Regions from separate parts of the Homo sapiens genome. Here regions 1, 2 and 4 are each reported to be linked to region 3. The links are microRNA targets in miRTarBase. Many come from high-throughput screens and were not tested one by one. Region 3 holds a microRNA gene; each other region holds the end of a gene's coding sequence.

Evidence for each region. The annotated mature microRNA hsa-miR-510-3p reads AUUGAAACCUCUAAGAGUGGA and lies in region 3 at 3,436-3,456, shown strand. An mRNA with a match to its seed (bases 2 to 7 or 8) in the 3' UTR can be bound and repressed. Matches are read on the target gene's strand: a 7mer-m8 pairs with bases 2 to 8, a 7mer-A1 pairs with bases 2 to 7 and ends in A, and an 8mer does both.
Region 1: the mRNA of MCTP1 is a reported target of hsa-miR-510-3p. Seed matches in the 3' UTR shown: 7mer-A1 at 1,467-1,473 and 7mer-A1 at 4,768-4,774.
Region 2: the mRNA of NSUN7 is a reported target of hsa-miR-510-3p. Seed matches in the 3' UTR shown: 7mer-A1 at 5,147-5,153 and 7mer-A1 at 4,358-4,364.
Region 4: miRTarBase lists RPL22L1 as a target of hsa-miR-510-3p. Seed matches in the 3' UTR shown: 8mer at 4,489-4,496.

Annotation. Positions count from the first base shown.
Region 1 is chr5:94,702,368-94,708,517 of GRCh38, reverse strand. It overlaps MCTP1 (multiple C2 and transmembrane domain containing 1), which reads left to right. Exons shown (of 23, transcript NM_024717.7): 22 at 1-6; 23 at 951-4,828. The coding sequence ends at 1,022. Among named protein-coding and RNA genes, the nearest start is that of SLF1, 87 kb to the right of the region's middle. RefSeq lists an enhancer at 5,301-5,370.
Region 2 is chr4:40,807,986-40,814,135 of GRCh38, reverse strand. It overlaps NSUN7 (NOP2/Sun RNA methyltransferase family member 7), which reads right to left. Exons shown (of 12, transcript NM_024677.6): 12 at 2,952-5,829. The coding sequence ends at 5,197. APBB2 (amyloid beta precursor protein binding family B member 2) reads left to right here. Exons shown (of 18, transcript NM_004307.2): 18 at 1-4,109. Among named protein-coding and RNA genes, the nearest start is that of NSUN7, 61 kb to the right of the region's middle. RefSeq lists an enhancer at 5,970-6,150.
Region 3 is chrX:147,269,648-147,275,797 of GRCh38, reverse strand. It overlaps MIR510 (microRNA 510), which reads left to right and starts at 3,390; the gene lies at 3,390-3,463. LOC105373347 (periphilin-1) reads right to left here. Exons shown (of 4, transcript XR_005647084.2): 4 at 3,903-4,915.
Region 4 is chr3:170,861,462-170,867,611 of GRCh38, forward strand. It overlaps RPL22L1 (ribosomal protein L22 like 1), which reads right to left. Exons shown (of 4, transcript NM_001099645.2): 4 at 3,414-5,063. The coding sequence ends at 4,919. Among named protein-coding and RNA genes, the nearest start is that of RPL22L1, 5.7 kb to the right of the region's middle.

The sequences.
Region 1 (6,150 bases), not on the chromosome of region 3:
CAAGTGGTATGTAGGTTTCGTTATTATTATTGCTATTATTTTAATGTAGTGTGGCATGGGGTTTTAGCTTTTATATCCTTCTAATTTCAAAGGCTTTAGAAGAGCTGAGTAAAAATTAATAAAGCCTGTGTAGCAGATTTTACCAGTCAGAAATTTAGCCCACCTGGGGTGTTATCCAAGAAGCACTTACAGAGAATGGGAGAAAGAGCAGTTGCATAAAGAACCTACCAGAGCTGTCAGGGAAGATCCTCCTCCAAGTTAGTTCAGCTGGAGTTTGTGACAGGGAGTATGACCTGAGGGGAGGAAACCAGGAATATTAGATGATGAAAGCAAAATATGCCAGTGGACATTTAAGAAAAAAAAGTCTTTCCAGAATTTGCAAGAGTTACAAGTAAGTTTTGAAGAAGTATATTTTGGAGATCAATGAGGAGAGGAAAGCTGACTGCTTTTTGAAGAGTGGAGCATATCTCAAAAATCCTTTGAGGTTAATGCCCATTAACCATCAGCTGTTTTCAAAATAAAAGAAGTTTGTTTTTTTTTTTTTAAATCCTGAAGCTGGGTTACAGTGATACCTTTTTCATTTGCTATGACATGACAGTGGGCTGGATGGAGATTAAGACTGTATTAAGCAAACACACGATAAATTGTAAAAAACCATTATCGAGCCCTTTAAAAAATTGATGTAGATGGTTTTACTTTTAATGTAATGTGTTATAGACAGTGAATACCATTACTAAAGTTCACATCAGGGCCCCATGTACTTTCCAACAGGATTTCCCTTATTCTTGCTCTGTCATTCTATTGCTTTCTGCATCTCAGCTGCAGATCCCATACAGCTTCTAGAGTGAGCACTTTCTTCCCCCAAGCACCGTCTCTCATTCCTTTGCTGTTCCTTTCTTTGCCAGAAAGTGGCCACCTGACCAGTCTTCCTCTGAACTCTGTTTAAACAGGTGCAATACCAAGAACTGAAACCAGATCCTTCTCATAGCCCATATAAAAGAAAGAAAAACAATCTTGGCTAGCCAGCTCCCAGCACTGAGGAGACCAGCATCTGTTTGGGAAGATAAAAGAAAAAGCCCTCAGCCTCAGCAGCATTTCCTTTCTTTCTGCTTTTTATTTATTTTGCCTTTTTATCATGATCGAGAGAATCTGTAAATAGTGTACAAAGGCATATGTCTTTGAATATATACTTCTATTGTACAGACTCAACTTGATAAAGGTTTTGCTACTGCTGTGTCAAAACCTTGTTAGCTGTGGATAATAATATAACACACTGAAAGAACAAATATAAGAATGATAACACTGGAAGATATATTCTTATCTAATTACTAGTGGATTAAATACTCACCTGTGCTCTGATTAAATCTACATCAATTGTAAATGTCGATTTGATTTTAAAGTTTTTTTTTAATGCGACTATTTTTTATCTGAAAAGTAATCCATTACACTTTTCTATGTTTTATACATTTCAAAAGGGAGGGAAATTCCAAAGCCTGAATAATGGAATGGATACATTTCAATTTAACATATATTCTGGCTTTAGATCCCGACATTCACTCCTGTGCAAATTACTTAGGTATGACTTAGGCTAATTTTAAGCTAATAAGTGAAGGTACATTCACTCCCTCAAGAGAATCAATACTCAGAAGGTTACAAAGTTTTCTTTATAGAATTTCAATCAATCATTCCATCTAAAACCTTAAAATCTCTACAGGACTACATAACATAAATACTGCCAGTTTATAAACGATTGCCTATCTGAATTTTTATACCTACCACTACTTTAATTTATACAGTTAGTTAGCAAATTAGCAACCCAGTAAGTACAGTTATCAAAAATACTAGGAAACTATATCCATATCGCTTTTGGTGTCAGATTGTATCTGTGCATCTAAAAATATTTTAATAAATACTCAAGTGCTCTCAGAGAAAAAAAAAACCTGCTTTCTCATTAGATTACTGAAATGCTTTAATTCATACTATGATTTTGTTATTAGTGTGAATTTTAATGTAGAGAATTCAGTGTGCTAAGTGATATGCCAGTGTTTCACTACATTCATTTATTAAAAAAAATCATTCTTGATTATGCATGAAAACCTGTTTTGTAAAATAAAATAAACTGCTTGGGGGTGGTGGTTGCCTTTATCAATGTTTCACTATTATCATAGAATCTATACTTAAAAATTGCATTCCCAAGACTCTTAAAGTAGTTTTTATATCTCACTCCCTGGTATACTAAGGGAGCATAACTCTGGAGAAAAAATAATTTGGTTGGTTGAGAATGTCTTACTTCCCTGACTTGGTAGGGGACTACACTCAGTTGAAATTGCAGCAGACAATGCTTTGCACTACTTTATTAATAATAAACTTGGATGGGGTAAAAGTGGGGGTTATACTGGAAAAACTATAGAAAAGCTAAAAGAAATGTATATTTCACTCTAAAGGAAGATTCTTTAACAATAAATGTAATCTCATTGAAGCTGATTTTTAAAGTATTTTTATTTTAGAGATAAGTTGTTAAATACTATTTCTTATAATAGAACTATTTTGATCTGTTTATATACTATGCTTGAATGTCAATTAAATTCCCTTTCTACAGAAAGGCTTTGACCTCAACATGCTTTATTTAATGTATCATGTTTAAAATGACATGCTTCTGTCTGCATACCATCACTGTTTGTTGCTAAAAACATAATGTTCCATGAACATGATGTTACTACAGAAAGTTTATTGATGAGATAACTGTTTGAAATAACTTTCAATTATACCTTATGTGAGACTTTTATGTTCTGTGCTGACAATGTGTACTCAAATGTCTATAAGCCTGATATTCTACAACCTCAGATGTATCTAGTGGATAGTAACCATTAACAGATGACTAATTTGTTTCACTGTATCAAATTTCAGATGTTTAGTTCAATGGTAATGCTGACTACACATTCACTGTATTAAATACAAAAGAAAATAATCTTTCCCACGTATAATCAGCACTCCTTTTTTTTTTTTTTTTGGTGGTTCAGAGATTGATGAGGGATTGTGTGCATATTCTTAAAAACTATATGTCACTTGGAGAAAAACAGATTTGGTTTAAACAAATAAGACCTTTTTCCTGAAACTCTGACTCTTATATGAAAATACCTCTGGAGGGGTGAGCAACCAATGACATTAACAGAGGAATAAGAACTAGCTTGAGGCACAAAAGTGATATTCAGGGAAATCTTCATTGCTTTTAGAAACTACTACATTCACAGGCTGAAAACAGAATATGTATAGTTAAAATTTTAACTATTTATTTCTTTCCCCTTCTCACATAGCTGCAATTCTGTCTTGAGAGCTGCCTGACTTGCCTTCATTTTGAGATCTGTGATGTAAATATTTCTTAAGAGACTGAATGTCACTCAAACATCTACTTGGACTGCTAACTATTATAGATATTGTGAACTACTAAATATATTCCTTTAGTATCTTTTAGTGAGTAAATTCACTGAGTCATTATTTATATTCATAAACTATTACTGACATTCGTTGTGATAATTCATAAGAAATGCGTATTTGTGCTTTTAAATTTTTCCCCACTTATCAAAAAGAACATAATAGTACTTCTCATTCATTCTGGTACTGTTCCAGACTCAAACTGATTGATTGATTGAATCTCCCAACTCAGATTATCCTAGTGCATATAGAATGTTCAAAAACTGGAATTCCTACAGAACCTATCAATCAATCAATCAGTTTTTGAACATTCTATATGCACTAGGATAATCTGAGTTGGGAGATTCTTAAAAGGACTCTGTGATATATTTATCGAATACCAACTGTATGACCCTGTTATAGACAACGGTCAAACCAATGATTGTATACTAAAATCAAATCTGGAGTTGAAGTACAGTGAGAGCCAAATTTAATTGATACATTTCTAAAATTATCTTTTATAAAATTTTTATTCTGCATTTAAAAGTGAAGAAAAACTCAGAAGTAAATGCTTATCTAGGGACCACAGGAGCTTTTTTTCCACTTTGATCTCATATCTAAGGTCTCCTATGCTCAAAGTAGTCTACATTTGTATTAATGTTATTCAAAGGCAGTAATTTCAGCGAATAAACTTGTTAAATGGGCCTAAATGTTTATAATGTTGACTAAGCATTAAGAACAAACAAAAAGGTATAAGGCAGTTATACCTTTTTGCTCCAGAAATACAAGTAAAGACAGCTACCATTATACTTCTTGAAAAACGTCTCAGGTATTGCTAAATTAATACTTGCTTAAATTCTTGGGCTTTAAATGAATAGCGTGATTTCACACTCTAGTGTGAGTGAGTGTACAGATGATGTCTATTCGTTGGTTTGATTAGGGTATCTAGAATCAGCCTTTTCTAATTGCTCAGTAAAGTATGAATTAAAACCACATAGAAAATAATGTGGTAAATTCTTTCTTACAATAGTGTCATTCCTTTCAATTATAATTCTTTTTCCTGGGATGATTGGTGTAACTCACTGAAAGAAAACAAAACATTTTTTTTTCTTTTTTTTTTGGTGAAAATGTTACCCTCTGGTACCTCAGTTTCTTTTATATAGTGGCAATTTGAATAGAGGCAGTCACATAAGATTTACTTCAGCTGAATGGCTAAAATTTGAGAAATACTATTGAAAAATCTCATTAAAAAATAGTATGCAAATAAAAACTATCAAATGTCCAAAGCAATCATACAATGTAGAAACTAAGAGCACCATGAAAGGTTTCCTGGAACTTAATGATTCTATCTGTGCTTTTCAAAGGAGGGATCTGGGTTAAGAATCAAAAAATAAAAACAATCAAATATTGTAACTGACCTCAAATGAGTTTCAATTTATTGGGCTCTTCTTTGACATTCTAAGCTTAAAAAAAAAAAGAAAAAAACAAAAAAACCACCAAAAACCCATACAAAAGAAGTGTTCTATTACATGCACAAGCAGTATTTTTGTAAAGACAGGTTTTTAAATTTATATGATTATCCGTACCTCCAAATGTCACTGAAAAATTATTACTCCATTTTTTACAAAGTAAAATACACTGCTGTTCTGCTTTAGTCAATTAAGTGTTTATTATATTAGGCAGAAAGATTTGTTTCAAGGAAAGCGGAAATGGTTTACGTAAGTAGCCGTGCCTACGTTTTTTCAGTATGTAGCAAAATTAAAATTGCAGTGCAATTATCCCCTACTACAGATTCTTCAATGTTCCTTCCAAAGAGAAAAGGAGTGGCCAACCTGAACCAATGAGTGAACCTGAAAACTATCTTTTCTCTGGAGGAATACATTTAAGGAGATCCTGAGGCCTGGCTGAGTGGAACTCACTCCCACTTGCTAGTGGGAACTTGCTCCCACTAGTGAAGAAAGATGATAATATAGGTTCAGTTTCACTTTCTAGTCAAAGACAAGCTCAAAAGGGCTTGAGTCCATTTGAGGGATTTTATTTTGCCAGAGTTCAAATGGTGACAGGTTTGGAGGAAATGCTAAATTCATAGAAAAAGCACACCTGGCCCTCACTACTCATACTTGCCTTTTGCATTACTGGAGACACCTGAGAATAGTCAAGCATTGTTAGAGACAGCTGGACCACAGAAGAGAGATGAGGGGAAGGAAATGACATATTTGTCCCAAGCTCAAAGAACCCTTTTTAATAAAGCTATCAGAGAACTGAAACCTTATAACTACATGCCCCACAAAACATTCTTCTTTTCTATAGTAGTAATTATGAAAAGTCAAAATCTCTGTGTACCTTGTAACACTGCAACCATGGAAAACAATTTATCGGTGTCAAGAACTAATAAGCTCTTGGAAAAATTTTACAAAGAAGTGTCTATTTGCTATTATACAAGGCGGAGTATGTAATTTTGTCATCTTTGTTTTATAATAGAGGAAGTAGTTAACAATTTCTGAGCAAAAAAACACAATGGTATACCTACCTCTTACGTTTGGCCTTAAACTCTTACAAACTTCAGTTTCCATTAACAGAGAACCTAGCAAACATAAGAGGGTCTTTGAAGCACACGAGAAGCCATCCAGAAAACACTATACATATCTGACAAAGGAGTTTTTAAACAGATTAATGTGATGTTCCATTATTTGTGTGAAATTGCTTAACATCACTTTTAAAAACATTCATTTTCAGAAG
Region 2 (6,150 bases), not on the chromosome of region 3:
TGTGGTAGACATTCCTAACTCATGGTACTTAGCCACCAGAGATCATGATGGAATGAGTGGGTGGCTTTTCTACCTGCCATTCCCTCAGAATTCATGAGGGGTGGGGGACAGGGGGACCGGAATTGTCTTAGCACCCCAATGTTATGACAAAACTATGCTACTTTAGAAACGCAGTCTGTTTTTCACCAATTGACATACTACTGATCTGAAGTAACCAGTGCCATCATAAGAAATTACTGCATTAAGAAAATCCTTGCTGTGCCCTTTGAAAAGCTGTTCAGAAATCATTTACAGTGATCTTTCATCTCGGTCGCTGTAGTGAAACATTTTAGTGTGATAAATTTCAAAATTCTAAACAAATTACCCACTTTTATATTGGAAATCTCTACCAGAACTCCCTCTTCATTTTTTAAGGCATACATTTGCTTGTTTTCAAGATCAAGAATTCTGAGCTAGCTTTAAGTAGCAAACTGATTTATATGTGCAATTATAGGATGCATTAAGATGAATGATAGCCTTTACATATTGAAAACTTTGCAGACGTTTTGTTTTGAAAATGGCATTGTATAGTAAATGCAAATTAATTTTGTAAAATTATGTTAAAGAGTATGTTCAGACACTTTCTGCCATGGCCAAAAAGTATGTATGAAAGTATGTGTGTATTTGTTTGTAAAAGGATGCCAATGTTTTACCTGATATCTTAGTGACACTTCAGTTATCTATGCATTCTTTAGATCTGTGATTCGGTAAACAGGCAGCCATGTTCACGATGCCTTCTATGTCTTACCATATTTTTAATTAACCTGTTAAATACAGCTTAAAATATTTTTATTTTATTTATTCTATTTTTACTGAAATATACTGCATTATTGTGTTAATGTATTATCTTTCCTGGATATTATCTCCCAGTGTATCCAGATCTAAGTAATCTCAGTGAACTATACATTGCCTAAAAAGTGGTTTTGTAATGATTTGTAGTCACATTTCTATTGGGATATGTAGAAGAAAAGGCAAAATGCTTAAAGTTCCTTTTATTTTTTAAAAGCAGCTAGATAGACACAGACTTGCCACCTCATACATCTGCTCCTTGGCAACATCAAGGGGAACGACTAGCCAACATGCCTATGGCTAAAAACTTTCCTTTGCAGACTAAAGCACTGCTTGGTGCTTCGTTTTTCTACCCTTCACAACATGTGTGATTTCATCTAAGAGATATATACATGTACACATGCCCTTTGTTTCCACCTGGATACAAGATCACTCATAGCTAATTAGGACCATTGTTTTTTGTTCATCTGTCTTGTTGCATGAAGGGACATTAGACCCATTTCCATTAAAATAAGTTCTTGGTGATAAACTGTGGCACTGCTACTTCTTTTTAAATCCACTTTATGATTTCAAGATGGACACTTGTAAGATGACTCGACACAAGGCCATTGCCTGGAAGCCCCAGAGCTTTCCTCTGTTTGTATGGCCCGTTCATGTCCCAGGCATTGCAACACAAACTCCTCAAGATTTCACCACAACATGACAAGCATTTTCCTAACTGATATTAGCACAATTTAACTAATAAGCCCCTTCGCTCTCTAGTTGGCCAGGCTTAACCTAATACACATCTAACGTGTGTGCCACACGGCCAGTAGAAAGTTTAACTTCAGCTTCAGGGCAAAGATACCCACTCACACCGTGTCAACGCAAGCAGTAGTTCCTGGCCTCCAGAGCAGCTTACTTCCCCTGAAAGAACGCTTTGTTTTCCTTTATGCCCTTTTCCTGTTGACCACTTTTACACATTTAAATGTAATTTGTTGTGAGAATAAATTTAGCTGCATAAAACGTTCGGCTCATTTATCTGACATCTTAGTCACATATACAAGGAATAGAAATAGAAACTCGGTGTCTCTAGTTATTTTTAAATTATTCTTACCTCAGACTTCTTAGAAATCACTTTAGTAATGGAGCATTTTGCTTTGATTAGTTACTACATATTTCTGCCTGGTAAGAACTAGGAAGTAACTTCAAATTTTGAGTAATCACCCTGTACTTATTTGGTGATCAGGAAGGCCAGCTGGCCTTCCGGACATAGAAGCCTATTTAGTCACCAACTCGAGTCTTTTGTAAGCGGTCTTGCTAGGATTGTGATATTTTAGCACGAAGAAGTTTATCACTTCCTTTAAGAACCTGACATCAAAGAATAAAGAATAGAGGTGTACACACACTAAATCCAAAATGAAAGGTAACTAGAGAAATCAGTTGAATCTGGTTTAGCTTAACTGTTAGGCGCAGGAAGGCAGATAAACAGAATTTAAAGTATGTCCCCGCTTTTTGTTCATCTTGCACTTCCACAGTGGTTTCTCTCTAGTCAGTAACAAAATTTCATTATGGTTTCAGGCATTATATGGTGGTAAATAATTTCAGATTAAAAATGTGTTTGCTATTGGAGTATCTGAATACTAGTAATTTCATTATTTAGAATTTTGCAGCACTTTTATCTCAAGAAGAAGTCCAAGAATGTAAAATGCCAAATGAAACATGTCAGTGGAATCAATATTCTCCTTCATTAGAATTCCCTCATATTGCTTTTTTTTTTTTTCTTCAGACAGAGGAGTCTTACTCTGGAGTGCAGTGGTGTAATTTCAGCTCACCACAACCTCCACCTCCCAAGTTCAAGCAATTCTCGCCTCAGCCTCCTGAGTAGCTGGGATTACAGGCATGCACCGCCACGCCTGGCCAATTTGTATATTTTTAGTAGAGACAGGGTTTCGCCACGTTGGCCAGGCTGGTCTCGAACTCCTGACCTCAGGTGATCCGCCCGCCCCAACCTCCCAAAGTATGTGAGCCACCACGTCCGGCCTCATATTGCTTTTATCCAAAATTCTTTTCCCTTTTCACTCTACCAAAGTATTTAAATAATCCTGTCCTTCATAGAAGATTCTCAAAGAAGAAAACTGCAGTGTAATTAATGAATGGTTTAATTCAGAATCTTCATATACTTCTAAAGAGAAAAATAATTTAGTGCCAAATGCATGTTAGGAGATAATCAATGTAAGTGGCAACAAATTGTGACTTCACATGCTACTGTAGAGATCAGAAAATTATCCTAAACTATTCCATAACAATGAGACAACATCACAGAAAATACACTTGAAAATAAAAATCTCAAGACCAGCTACTTCTGGACAATGGAATACTTTTCAGTCTGGTATGGTGGAGGGCCCGAAAAGGATAAGGGATTCTTATGATACACAATGGGATTCTTTACTGAACAATATGTTAAATTAAGCTGCACCGCCTTCCTTGAGGCATGGACTACCCTAACCAACCAGATAGAAATCTGGGTGGGATAAGAGGATGAGCCACACGCTATAATTTTAGGGCAAGGAGATAGTGTTTGATTTTCAAAATCAGCAAAATAAGCTGAGCACTTTATATCTTTCTGTACAAGAGTGATAACATGAAGAATTCTTCTTCAGGGATTTAAAATACAATAAGCCTGGTTCAACTATAAAAAGTCTTGTTTCCTTTCTTCATTGACACTTTTTTTTTTTTTTTTTTTTTTTTGAGGCAAGGTCTCACTCTGCTTCCCAGGCTGGAGTGCAGTGGGGCAATATTGGCTCACTGCAACCTGCACCTCCTGGACTCAAGAGATCCTCGTACCTCAGCCTCCTAAGTAGCTGGGACTACAGGCGTGTCCCACCACACCCAGCTAATTTTTGTATTTTTTGTAGAGATGGGGTTTTGGGGTTTCGCCATGTTGTCCAGGCTCGTCTGGAACTCCGGTGCTCAAGTGGCGTGCCCACCTCAGCCTCCCAAACTGCTGAGATTACAGATGTGAGCCACTGCACCCAGCCCACTGACACGTTTTACTGATAAATGTAAATCTAAGCTAAAATAAAAATAATGTATTACCGCTATAATACAATTCACCATTCTCTTTTCTCACTTCAAGTAAGAAAGTAAAAATAGAATATCAGAGCTGAAGTAGACCTAAGTATTCATCTTGAAGAAGATAATATTCTAAAAATCATGCCACCTGAATTGAGCATTTAGGAATTTATGTAACATTTCTATACAACTGAATTGCAAAAATAAAACTTTAAATTCAAACTTTATGAATATGTCTATGAATGTTTTTAAATAATAAGATATATAGTTGTATCTTAATTCTATTTAATGACAATTTCTGTTGCCATGATGAAAAATCAGTAGACCCAGAAATGATAATCATACCAATTTTTGGTAGGCAATTGAGAATACATTCAAGATGAATCGACATTTAATATAATTAATTAACATAGTGCTACAATATATTTAATTGTGCCTCAGAAATGATTTACCAAAGTTTGATTCCTGTGTGCTATTTGAAATGACTTGTAGATTTTGTTGTATCCCCTGATCTTAGAATCAGAAATTTGTGGGTTTCTTCAACAATAGGTATCGCTTGCATTCAACAGTTTTGCCTCTTCTTCAGAATTATTAATATTTAGATGGAAATTTGCTCACAGTCTTTTGTAACAGTGCTTGACATAGAGGAAGGGAGAGATGATTGTGTCCAGTCTGCTCAGGATCCTGGAAGCTCCCCCAGTGAGAGACACCTCACTGTAAAAGGAACTCTGAGCTACACACACCTGGCACTTGGGAACTTCCTGCGCTTCCTACTTAAACTCAACTTCAGTCACGTTACAAAAACTCATGTTCATTCCCTGTTCAAAGAACAGCTTGATATTTAAGAAAAAATCACCCTTGATCGTGACTGAGAAAGTCACGACTACAACCGCATGGATGCTGAAGAGCGGTCAGCTGGCGGGAGAGGCCAGGATCGTTTGCCTGTTTGGCTTTCTAATGAGCTACCTGCTGAAGGGAGGCAGTGTTTCCTTCCCTGCAGGGGAAACTTGGCAGCTTTAAGTCCAGCCTGAAAGTTCACAGGAGTGAGATAAGTTCTGACCGCTGATACTGAGTCTCTAACTGGATCCTCTCAGAGCAGCAGTGATTGGCTGAAGTCTCTGAATTCTGCTTTGCTGACTCCTACATTATTGTTTCTCACTTGTCTGAATTCTCTGAAAGTAATATCACACTTAGAAGATCCCTAGGTGACCAAAAGAATGAATATCTTGTGTAGAGATGTAGAATCTTCAGAGAAATACTAGACTTTGAAAAAAAATCAACTGCTCTTTGGCCCCTATAAAAAACACAAGACAATCAAAGCCATCGCCGAGGAGGCCTGAGTAGGGAGGAAGGTGTGTCATCTTTAGGCTTTTCCTCTTTTCTGGATAGTGAGTGTGTGGGAAGGCAGGTGGGCACAAGTGCCTTGGGTGCAACCCAACGACAGTACAAATGTTGAGTTGGCATCCGAGATCTGATCCCTTGGGGACTTGAAAATGGCATAAAGACTGGAGGCAGAACAATCTTGATGGGTTTCAGAGCAACCATTCTGTCTTCTGGCCGAGGTCTTAAGAAGTGTGTCTGCCGTTCACGCGGTCTGGAGGGACAAGTGTTCTTCACAAATGCAGGCACTGCAGGATGGGGGGCCAGCTTGTTGGGTTTTCTGGTCTGTGAGGAAGCCCCCACTTGAGCAGTATTTTTCTGGGGAAGAGGTGGTTTTGTTACAGTCTCTGATAGATTAGCACTGGCTTTAGTTTCTCGATTCAGGAACTCAGCAATTTTCATTTGGATGCCATTATCAGTAGTGGCACCTTTTGTCAATGATGTTTTTGATTTTTTCTTCTTCTTCTCCCGTTTTGATGATTTACCCAACTCAATCCCATCCAGCAGACCCTTGGCTGCAGCTCGGGCCAAAACATCATTCACAGACACTGTCTCAGAAGGGTCCCGCTGCAATTAAAGAAGCATTTACTAAATGTGGGAGTTAGCTATTATTGTGTCTCCCGCAAATATTTATCAATGTATCAGTAAAAATAAAAAGACTCTCTTTATTATACTAAAAGAAATAAGAAATAGTTTTTAGGCCTTAGTCCCCAATCTCATAAGCCTCAGCGAATGCCTTTTTAAAAAAACAAACAAAAAAAAAACTTAAACTTCCCCATTTATGAACCTGATACCTGATAGAAAAAAAGAATCACACAGATTTTTTTTTTTTTTTTTTTTTTTTGAGATGGAGTCTTGCTTTGTCGCCCAGGCTGGTGCGATCTCAGC
Region 3 (6,150 bases):
ATTACTATGTTGTACTGTCATGAACAATGTATCAGTGATCCACTTACCCAAATACTTATCTGCACTTGGTATGAGCATGGTTTTTGAGTGTTTTTATTTTTATAGGCTATTCTAATACGTGTGTTTTGTCAATATAGTTTCAGCTTGCATCTCTTTGTTGACGAAATGTTAAGCATCTCTTCATATACTTATTTGCCATTCATATATCTGCTTTGTTGAATTGTCTGTTAAGGTATTTTCCCCATATTTATTGAGTTGGGAGAGTTTTTATGCATTCTGAATTCAATTTATTTGTCAGATATGTGATTTTTTTTCTTTCTTTCTTTTTTTCTGTTTTTTTTTGAGACGGAGTCTCACTCTGTCACCAGGCTGGAGTGCAGTGGCACGATCTCGGCTCACTGCAGCCTCTGACTCCCTGGTTCAAGTGAGTCTCCTGCCTCAGCCTCCTGACTAGCTGGGATTACAGGCGTGTGCCACCATGCCCAGCTAATTTTTTGTATTTTTAGTAGAGACAGGGTTTCACCATGTTGGCCAGGATGGTCTCAATCTCCTGACCTCATGATCCGCCTGCCTTGGCTTCCCAACGTGCTGGGATTACAGGCATGAGCCACCGTCCCCGGCCCAGATATGTGATTTTCAAATATTTTTTCTTAGTCTGTGGTTTACTTTTGCATTCCCTTAACCATGTGTTGTACAGAGCAAACTTTTTTTTTTTTGTATTTTCATAAAGGATGATTCACCATTTGTTATTTTATGGTTTACATTTTAATGCCATATCTTAGAGTGTCTAAATTTAGGTACGTGATTCTTGGTTGACTGTTTTCCTTTTAGCACTATAAATGTTATTCCAGTGTCTTCCGGCCTCTATGGTTTCTAATGAAAAGTCAGCGAAATATATTGTAGAGGATCCCTTGTATGCATTAAGTTTATTTTTTCTAGTAGATTTCAATATTCTCTTTTTTTGTCACCAAAAAGTAGATATGTCTCTCAGCTTGGATTTCTTTTGTTTATGCTACCTGTAGTGTTTTGCACTTCTTAGGTATAATAAAAAATGTTTTTCATCAAATTTAGATATTCACAGCCATTTTTAAAAAATACTTTTTTGCTCCTTTCTATCTTTCACTTCTGCTACCTTAATATGCGTATTTTGATGTGCATGCTGGTGTTCTGCCTTTCTCTGAGGCACTGTTCATTTTCTTCACTCATTTTATTCTTTTATTTTTATAGAATTATCACTTTCAAGGTATCTTAAAGTTCACTGATTCTTTTTTCTCCTGAGTCCTTCTAGTGAATTTTTCACTTCAATTATTTTACTTTTATACTCCATAAATTCCTTTTCTTTAAATATTTCTACCTCTTTATTGATAGACTCTTTTGATGAGGCATTGTCAACATAGCTGCCTTTACTCTTCCAAGCACCATTTGTTTAGTGTTTTGAAAATACTTACAGTGGATGCTTTAAGGTTGTTGTTAAGTATAACATTAGGCTCTGTTGCCAGCATTTTCTGTAATCTACTTTTGTCCTGTGTGTTATATTTTTATTTTCTCTGTATGTCTGAGAATGTCCAGTTGAGAACTGGATATTTTATTAATATATTATAGAAGTTTTGGATGCAGATCTTGCTTCTGGGGATTGTTGTTGTCTGATTTTTTTATTTGTTGATTTACTTGGCTGTGCTGTTTTAGTAAAATCTATATTCTTTTTATTGTGAAAACCTAATGTTGTTCCTTGCAAGGTATAACTTTGGATATGTACACAGTCACTCTAAACTGTCGTGATTTTAGTAGAGTTCTTTGTTCTTTTGCTGCTCTTTCTGTTAAGCTGCCTGCCTCTGCGGTATCACACACAGGTAATAAGCTTCAGTGTTTGCAGGTGGATTATTTTGTAGCTTTTGAGAATACCATGGGCAAAAATTGCTTTAGAGTCTTATCCAAATACTTTGCAGATAATTTTTGGGGCAGGTCTCTAAAGGCTATTCTCCTACCAGAAAGGCTCTTATTAGCTGTCTGTTTCCTGATTCCAGTTCCATCCTAATTACTTGGCACCACAGTCTACATTATTTGTGAGACCTTTCTTGTCTTCTGTTACAACTGAAGTCATTTTCTTTTGAGAAGGAAAGCTTTAATGCTTTTTCTCTTAGGGCTAGCCTCTCTCAATGGACAAATCCCTGAGCAGTTGCCCCAAGCTGAGAATAAGGCAGTGTCCTGCTTCTTGTACACTGACACCCCTGCTTTACAACCAGGGTGATGAGTGATAGCAGTGGATTCTAGTGTTCTGGTTTGCCTCACCCAAAGTGGAAGCTCCCCCTGATGATTAAGCTGAGATGAGGAGTATTACGTACTCAATTATCTCCGCCGGCTGCACCTGGTATAGAGCCTAAACCCTGTGATGAAGAATGGCTATAGTAGCAGGCCCCTGACCTCTAACCTCACATGCCTAGTATTTAGCCTCTGAAACACTAAACTGGGTTTGTGGAGTGGATGAGAAATTCTGGAGGCTTCTTAAACCCACAAGTATATTGTTGCTCTTGATTAGGAGATAGGGGAACAGGTAATTTTGTAAGCCACAGTCACTTTAAATTCTCAGTTCTCAGTCTCTGAAATCCAGTCACCAAAATTGTGTCCATATTTTTGTGTGTGCTAATTTTAGTTTTGCAGGGAAACACAGTCACCTAGTAGCATGTGTCTCAGATTGGAAAAATGCAAACACATGCTAAAAAGAACCTTGCTCCCAGAAAAGACGAAGAAAACCCAGAAACTGAAAAATCTCTAAGAGTGTCTGGGTGCCTAGCACAATTTCTGTTTTGTAGATCACTCCTGGTAAGTAAAATGGGATTTTTTTTTTCACTTCAAAATTTGATGAGGATAAAAGAAATTCTACTCTCTCCATCTTACCACTCACTGATTATTCTCTCTTCTTTGCTTCCAGGATCCTGTGTGATGTCCTTGCTTATTCTGTAGTGAGGAGTTGTAGTAAGGAACTCAGGTAGAAGAACTCAGATCTTTGGATGATAGGCACAGATTGGTGAGATAGAGTGTAGTGTCTGGGTAGCTACTGAATCTGGGGAATGCAATCTACTCATTAATACTTTATATAAAACAATGGGAAAAGAAATAGAATAAGGCATCGAATGAGATTTTTCCCGTTAGCAGGAGAGCCTAGCAGGAAGGTTCTTAGTCCTGAAAACTGCCATGTGAAAACTCCAAACCATGAGTGGACAACACTCAAGGGGGAATGAGTGAATAAAAAATGATGTAGGTTCTTCAGGAATCATTTACATAAATGCCAACGGCCACTTACAGACTGAAAACATTTGAGAGGTTGTTTGAAAAGTGTGTGATTAAGTATTTAGGCTGTGCTCCCATTTTCAGGAATGCTGTGTATGTGTGTGGTGTCCTACTCAGGAGAGTGGCAATCACATGTAATTAGGTGTGATTGAAACCTCTAAGAGTGGAGTAACACATGACATGTACTACATATGCAATGATATTGCAGATATTTAGTTGCATGCAGTGGTATGCTTTTCTTAGCACATAGATAGTCCATCTGGTACCCTCCTCAATACTAAACTAGCTGGGGAGTTTCTAGATAAACTTCTGAAGACAAGACATAGGAAATAAAGGTTTTGGGAAAAAGTGTTTCACTGATTTCTTAGGGGCTTCATATCCTTCTTTACAAACTTGCAAGACTAAAATGGGAAAAAAGCCTTTTAGTATGGTCATGGTGTTCCTATCTGCCTGTGAATTTTTTTTTTTTTTGATAACCCTTACCTGCGGGGTCCATCCCACAGACCCTGGCCAAGCAACGGATGAAAGGAGTACTCAGCCACAGGCATGCAGTGTAAGAGCAGCTACAGGAATGCCCAGCACTAATGGCTGAAGAGTGAGCAGTCTCGAACAGCTGGAGCTGCTTGCTTTTATTCAGTACAGACAAAATAATGAAAGCCTGGAGCCAACACAATCTGTGGGTAATTAACATTATTATTCCCCCTTTCAGGGAGCAGTCTCCTGCCCTGATGATCAAAGTCGGTTTCCGGACAATGTAAGTAAACAAGCCTGTTTATGCCAAATTCCCCTATACTTCCTTACCTACCCCTTGCCCTCTGCCTCAGGGTAAGAGAACAGCTGCCTTCAGCTTATTCATCCCTGAAGCTATCCAGAGCCTTCCCGCCTTTCAGAAGGTCTGTTCCTTTCCCTATACCTTCTCCTACCACTCTGACCGATCTCCCGCGTCTCCCCCTTTTCTGTTTTTAGCATCGGGTTTTGTTGATTGAATAGTACAGATGTGTGCAGTGACAGATTTGACAGGCGCAGCGGTTACAGCTCGTGTTCCGGCTTTGCATCCTAGAATTAGTAAATAACATAAGTCAAACATTAGTATAGTCACTATTATTCTTTTCCAATCAAGGAGAGATATGTAGTGTTACTTGGCACCTCAGTTCAATGTGTGCCATTATTAAGGAACCCCACTGGGGGCATGTCAACCCCTCCCAGCTAAGCAGTTACATTATTAGAGGATGGGAAGGGGGTGTCTGCCAAGGTAACAGGTTGGAAGAAAGGCAGATCTTAGAAGATGGGCCCAATAGAATGTAGCAGGTATGAGTTGCAGGCAAAGTGAGAGAATAAGAAAGGTGAATACCCTATGAGAGTTGCAAGGTACAATAGAGAGCATAGCAAGGAACAGATTATCTGGAGTGATGGTGTCTGTGTCCAGAGAAGGATTCACTCGGCCTCCTGAGTTGTCTTCTTCAGCTTCCCCCAGGTAATGTCTGGGGCCTGTGTCATCGGAGGAAGCCACATCGTCTGGGGCTGCGGGTCCTGCAGCGTCGTTTCCTTTATTTTTGATACCAGCTTGGGTCTTAGCCACGCCATGGTATGGTTTGATGTGTCTGTCACACTGGAATACAAAGAGGACCTGAGGGCGTGTGAACACAAGCATATTCTCTTCCCCAGGTCAGCAAATCATTTGGACCACACCATAGATTACTATTAACTTCTTTCCATAAAACCATGGGTTTTATGTCTTGAGGGGCTTTTGCAAAATGCTTTTCTATGGCTGATTGAAATTTATCTAAATTAAAAAAATTAAGGGTAAATAAGGCTTATGCTAGTAGTGTTGCAGCATCCTTACTCATATTCCCCCTTGTTTTCTGAGCATATTTTTAAGGGTGGAATGGGCATGTTCTACTATGACTTGTCCTTGGGATTTGTACGGGATGCCTGTGGATGTCACATATTGGACATCCATGTGTGACAAAATTGGTGAAATTGTGAGCTGGTGTAAGCTGGACCATTAGTAGTTTTAATTTTTGTGGGCCGCCCCATAAACGCAAAACTTAAGAGAATATGTTTAATGACATACTGGGCAAACTCTCCGGGAAGAGCATGAGTGCTAATTAGGTGGGAATTGGTATCAATGGATATATGTACATATTTTAGTTTTCCAAATTCAGGGATGTGCGTAACGTCTGTTTGCCATAACTGATTAGGTTCTAGTCCTCTAGGGTTAACACGTGTTGATGGAGGGGACATGCCTCTGAGCTGGCCTTTCATTAATGATAGCTGGTATTGTAAATGCAAATTTTTCTCTGTCCTGTTTTGCAAGGGGAATAGTGTAAAAGCAGTCTTTAAAGTCAATAAAACAGTCTTTTGAGTCAATATGGGCCAACCTTGAGGAATCACCATGGGGGAAGGGATCCCCTGTTGAAGGGGCCCCATAGGTTGCAAATTAGCATTGATGGCAGGTAAGTCATGCAAAAGTTTCCATCTAGCAGACCTTTTGGGAATGATGAAAATGAGTGATTCCAAGGGCCGTTTGACGGTTCTATATGGCTGGCTTTTAATTGTTCTTCAACTAATTCATGGGCTGTTTGTGATTTCTCTCCCTTTAAAGGCCACTGTTCAACCCAAATAGGATCTTGAAAGAGCCATGTCAGGGGTCGGGGAAGAATAACAACAGTGGCCATTATTAGAAAGGGGCCATATGGAAGTTGTTTGCTATGGCCTCGATTAATCCTCGTGTAAATGGGCTAGCGGCTCTGTTTTCTCTAATGCTTTTTTGTTATTTCTTTATAAGTGTTGAAACTAATGGATTCACGTACCCAGTTGCCTTGTTGATCTTGCATCACCGGGCAGGCCAAGAGTTCCCCT
Region 4 (6,150 bases), not on the chromosome of region 3:
TCTTAAGAGATATACACAATGGCACTTTTAAGTATTCAGGTAAAAAAATATCACTTGAATCTGATATTGATCAAACTTCTAGATCCGACCATCAATTTTTAGGAAATACAGTGGACAGAGGACCACATTAAATGACACTATGGGGAGGGGAATTATGAAAATCTGAATTGAGAAAATTCTACAGGACAAATGACCTAGTGTGATAAACAAAGAAATTGGGATGGGGGAGTAGAGAGAAATAGAGTGAGGGCAAACTTTTTTTTTTTTTTTTTTTTTTTTGAGACAGTCTTGCGCTGTCGCCCAGGCTGCAGGGGGCAAACTTTTAAAGGAGGTTTAAGAGACATTTAATTGCAACTGTGGACCTTATTACAACTGTACTTTGTACAAAGCTAAAAATTGCCAGATATTTGGGGAAATTTAAGCACTGAGTGGGCATTGGGTAATACAGGAAATTATTGTTAATTTGTTTGTTATAGGTGTGATAATGGTATGGCAGTTATGTTTAAAGAGTCCTTATCTTTTAGACACTACATTTAGAGATATAAGCATAAGTTTATAGAAGAAATGATAAAATGTTGGGAACTTGCTTCAAAATAATCTGGGGATGTGGGAGTAGAAGGAATATAGATTAAACACATTTTTTCTACTTACATATGTAATTGAAATGTTTCATAATAAAAAGTTAAAAATAAATAAAAACCATAAAAAGTTAAAAAGAAAACAAAAATTTGCCCAGCTCTTGCAGAGACTGCAAGGCAAGAAAATCTAAGAATCTCTTAGCCCTTCAGAATAAAGTCAGCTTCACGACTGTGAAGTCACATTCTCAAAATGGATAGTCTGATTGAGATTAAGAGATTCTCTGCATTCTCATTCCTTCTTGTCATAGACTAACGAAATACTTCACTGTAATCTAAAATATATCAGATCATGACATTTCTCTGCTCAAGTCTATCTGTAGCTCCCCAGTACTTTATATGTACCCAGAAAAACAGCTGATGCCCTTGTAATAGCCTACAGAACTCTCCCTACTTGATATCCCCTCAGTGGTAGCCAGCCCCCAAGATGGCCCCCCAAAATGATCCCCACCTCCTGGTATTTGTTATTCTCTTCCAAGACTGGTCTATGTGATCAGTAAAATAAAGAAAAGGTGATGACATGTTACTTCTGAGATTCGGTTATAGACACTGTGGCTTCCATCTTGGTTTCTTTCTTCCTCCTCGGATCACTTGCTCTGGGGGAAACCAGCTGTCATGTTATCAGCAGTGTCATACAGAGGCCACATAGCAAGAATTCCGGCGAACTGAATTCTCCTGCCAACCGCTCTGTCAGTGTGCATGGAGGCTGATCTTCCAGCTTCAGTCAAGCCACTTTTTTTAAAGGGTTGGATGGTAAATAGTTCGAGCTTTGCAGGCCATGTGGTTTATATTGCAACTACTCAACTTTTCCATCATACACAACATGAAAATTAACGTGTTCCCAGAAAATCTTATTTACAAAAACAGGCAGTAGTTTGGTAACTCTCCCATGACTTCAGTGCAGGCTCACAGCTTGATTGCCACCTCATGAAACCCTGAACCAGAGCTATGCAGATAAGCTGCTCCAATTCCTGAGCCTCAGGAAATGTGAGATATATTTCTTTCAAGTTGCTACACTTTAGTGTAATCGATAACTCATATACCATCATCCCACTCTCCACACCCCATGTATACCTCTTTTTACTTCTCTAATCTCTACTCTCCACCATTCATTCAGCTCAGGTCATAGAGGCCTCCTTGTTGTTCCTTGATTATACCAGGGGTGCTCGTGCCTTCGGGCCTTTGCACTTGCTATTTTTTATGCCTGAAGTACTTCTCCCCAAGACATCTACTTGGTTAGATTCAGTATCTCCTTTAGGTCTTTACTCAAATGAGCCTTTCTCAGTAAAGTGAGGAGGGGAATAGTGAGGATGTTCCCTCATCCTACTTATAAATGTAACACACCTTCCTTCCTACATTCCCTATTTCCTTTATTTTTCTTCATAGCATTTACCACCATGTAACATACACTTTATTTATTTTATTGTCTGTCTTCCTCCGCTGGATTGTAATCTTCATGAAGGCAGGAGTTTCCATTTTGTTTACTTCAGTATCCAAAACAGTACCTGGCCTGCAGTAGCCCTCAATAAATTTTATTATTTAACAAACCTCCCAACACCTTAAAGGCATGAATATCTTACTTGACATAATATACCCAGTCCCTGGCACATAATAAATATTAAATGCTAAATTAGCTTTCAAGAATTTTAAACATGTGAATATCAGATGTGTTTTTGAAAGATCACTCTAGGAAAAGAATGGAGGAAGCAATTGGTGTTTGTCAATACTTGATTCTCATTTGCTCTCTTTCAGAATATTCAGCCCTTCAGAATAAAGTCAGCTTCACGACTGTGAAGTCACATTCTCAAAATGCATAGTCTGATTAAGAGATTCTCTGCATTCTCATTCCTTCTTGTCATAGACTAACGAAATACTTCACTGTAATCTAAACTAGATCAGATCATGACATTTCTGTCAGGCAATTTCACCCATCCTCACTGTTCATTACTTCCTAAATGCAATTTAACCTTAAAATTTGCATTGTCCCTGTCCGATTTCCCAAAGCTACCCTCTTTCTCAACTTTGGGTTGCATAACTTACTGTGTGACTTTGGACGAATTACTTAACTCTATGTTCCTCAGTTTCCCTAGCTGCCAATGTGGATATTAATACTTATCTCAAAAGAATGTTATGATGATAAATGATTCAATTCATGTAAAATACTGAGAACAGGTCTGGTGCGGTGGCTCACACCTGTAATCCCAGCACTTTGGGAGGCCGAGACAGGTGGATCACTTGAGGTCAGGATTTCAAGACCAGCCTAGCCAACATGGTGAAATCTCATCTCTACTAAAAAAAATACAAAAGTTAGCTGGGCGTGGGATAGGCACCTGTAATCCCAGCTACTCGGGAGACTGAGGCAGGATTATCACTTGAGCCTAGGAGGTGGAGGTTGCAGTGAGCCATGATCATGCCACTGAACTCCAGCCTGGGCAACGAAGTGAGACTCCATCTCAAAAAACAAAACAACAACAAATCCATTCTCCACAATACAGTCTGATCTTTTTCAAAATGCATATCTCATCAGGTCACGTTACTTTCATTACAAGCTCCCATTGCCCTCAAGATGAAAACATGGACTTCAGTCCTGCATTGGCTAGCTTCTACTTTTCCAGATTATCCTCATGATCACATCTATTCCAGAATGTACTCTGGCCAACCAGACTCCCAATGCCCTGAGAACTTCAGAAGTGCTCCTCCCTCTGTCTGGAATGCCCTACTTTCCCCTTCCCAGATACTGCCTACCTTCCCTGTTCTATAAAGTGCTCACAAACTTCATTTGCCTTCCCAGATGAAATTCCTTTTATTAAGCCCTCCCTTTTGTAGCAGTAAATTTGTTCACATGTGATTTGATCAGTTTCCGTCATAATACTAACACAGCAGAGCAGGCTGGGTGTTTTTACTCATCACATACATCCTCAATGCTCTGCAGCGGTGCACAGTAGTAGGTACCTGGTTAACTATTTGTGAAAAACATGAAAAATGGGAACAATGGGGCAGAGCCAAGTTAGGAAGTTCAGTCATCCAAGAATCAAGGAGTTGCTGCACTGAGGTATTGCACGATGATGGGGGCACTTAAATTTTTAGGAAAACGAATTAAAACATTGAATTAAACAATAATTTCAAGCAATTCCCAAACCAATTAATGCATAGATTAGGTTGTAACTGTCCAGATATGTTTGGCGACACAATTCTATTAGCATCAAGACTCATCTAAGTACCTGAAGTAGTGGCACCACCATCAGGCTCAGCAGTACAAAAAGGCACATCATTCTTGTCCTCCCTAATCTCCTGCAGTATGGATTTTGCCAAACCATTTCGATTAGAGCTTTCAAAGGCCAGTTTATTCGGGAGAAAGGGTCCATCCACTTGTAAGTTTCAATAGACAACCAACACGCCGGTGTTGGGGTAGGGGCTTTTGAGAAAGAGATGAGGATGCTCTGAGACAAGATTCCAACCGAGTGAACTAATTTTTTCAGACAAGGACCACAGTAGATTCTGTAGCTGAGTTGAGATTTGGTTTTGAGTTTCTGGTGCCTACAAAGCAGGTGGTTAGGGCTTTCTAATAAGCAGTTTAACATTGGTTTACAGCAGGCCTCACACCCAGAGTCTTTGGGCTAACTATAAGAGCAAACTACAGAGCAACTTATATGTAAGAACTGTTCTAAGCACTTGAGATTACATTTACAAGCTATTAAAAACAGTATTTGAGACTGTCAAGACAATCATATACATTTTATACAGCTATATAAAAAATTGTTCTACAGTAAGATTTCCTGGCCGGGCATGGTGGTTCACAGCTATAATCAGCACTTTGGGAAGCCGAGGTGGGTAGATCACTTGAGGTCAGGAGTTTGAAACCAGCCTGGCCAACATGGCCAAACCCTACTCTACTAAAAGTACAAAAAATTAGCCGGGCATGGTGGCTCACACCTGTAATTCCAGCTATTTAGGAAGCTGAGTCACTGCACTCCAGCCTGGGTGACAGAACGAGAGTGTCTAAAAAAAAGATTTCCTATATAACGCTACTTTTACCTGAGTACATAAAAGATTTTGGAAATCGTGGGAAAAAATTATACCAGCTATAAGCTATTTAAATACTGTTGATAGTTATCAGAGGGAAATCAAAATCATATAAACAGCATACTCAAAAAAATGAGACAAAAGTTCAAGAGTATAATATTTTTTATTCACTGATAAACTAAAAGCCAATTTCTTGGTATTTCTCATGTATACTTCATTTATTTTATTAATAAGCAAAGCCCTGTAAGGGGAGCCTTTGCCTAGTCCTCCGACTCTGATTCATCTTCATCTTGACTAATCTGGAAGTAACGAAGTTCGTAGGTCTCCTTGTCAGATGCAACCACTCGAAGCCAATCACGAAGATTGTTCTTCTTAAGGTATTTCTTGGTAAGGTATTTCAAATACCTTTTAAAATAAAAACATAAATTTCATTAAGAAATACAATTCCTACTATGTAAAGGTTTACTATACGAAAAATATACATCATCATATTCATCTTTTCTGTACCTAGCTTCCTCCAAAATATTTCATCCTTCCATTCACAGGATGTATTGTGTAAGACTGTTAGGGTAGCATCCTCTTGTCATACTGCCACACTATATATTGTTCAAGATTGTTAGGGTAGCATTCTCTTGTCAAACTGCTACAGCCAAATTATTTAAGCAATATGATTTCACTCTTCAAATATATTATCTGTGTATATATATGTGAAAACGTTAACACCTCCTTCACCACTATCAAGCCCCCTAGCTCCCAATCCCACCCCGGCTCAACAGGCAACCTATTAATAATAGGGTTAAACCCATACTATGCTCATTAAGTCTCAACTTCTCTGAAAATTCTTGGGCTCTCTCTACATCTAATGTAACTAGAGTTGTATTTTACAATAATTATCTGATTATCTGTAAGATACTTGATTTACAGCTACTACAGCTACTACATTTTTATCTCTGAATCCTTAGTGATTATAATCTCAGTTAACATGTACTGCAACCACTTTAGTCCAAGCCATCATTGTCTCTCACTGAAATTAGCTCTTACATCTTCAGTTTCCACCAGATGTATCACCCTAGTCTTTTTCAGCCACAATAAACAATTGCTTCCCATTACACATCCCATGGCTTTCAAGATCTGCTCCCCAGACACCCTCCAATCTCATGCATTCCTCCCAGAACACTATACCCCAGACACACTGGCTTTGTTACTATTACTTTAATCTGCCAGGCTTCTGGTTCATCCTGCCTGTAACAACTGCAAGGCTCACTTCTGCATTTCATTTCCTGACCAACTTACCAACGTACCCAAAAACTCTGCAACTAGTTTTATGCCCTTACAGCACTTATCACTGCTTGATTAATTCCATTTCACTCTCTCTTCTCCACTAGAAGTTTCTTGGTGGTGGGTAAACTGCCTGCTTGGTTCACTGTTGGGTTACCCAGTCCTGTGCTGCCCATGTAGTATTTAATATTTGGTGAATAAATTCAACAAATAA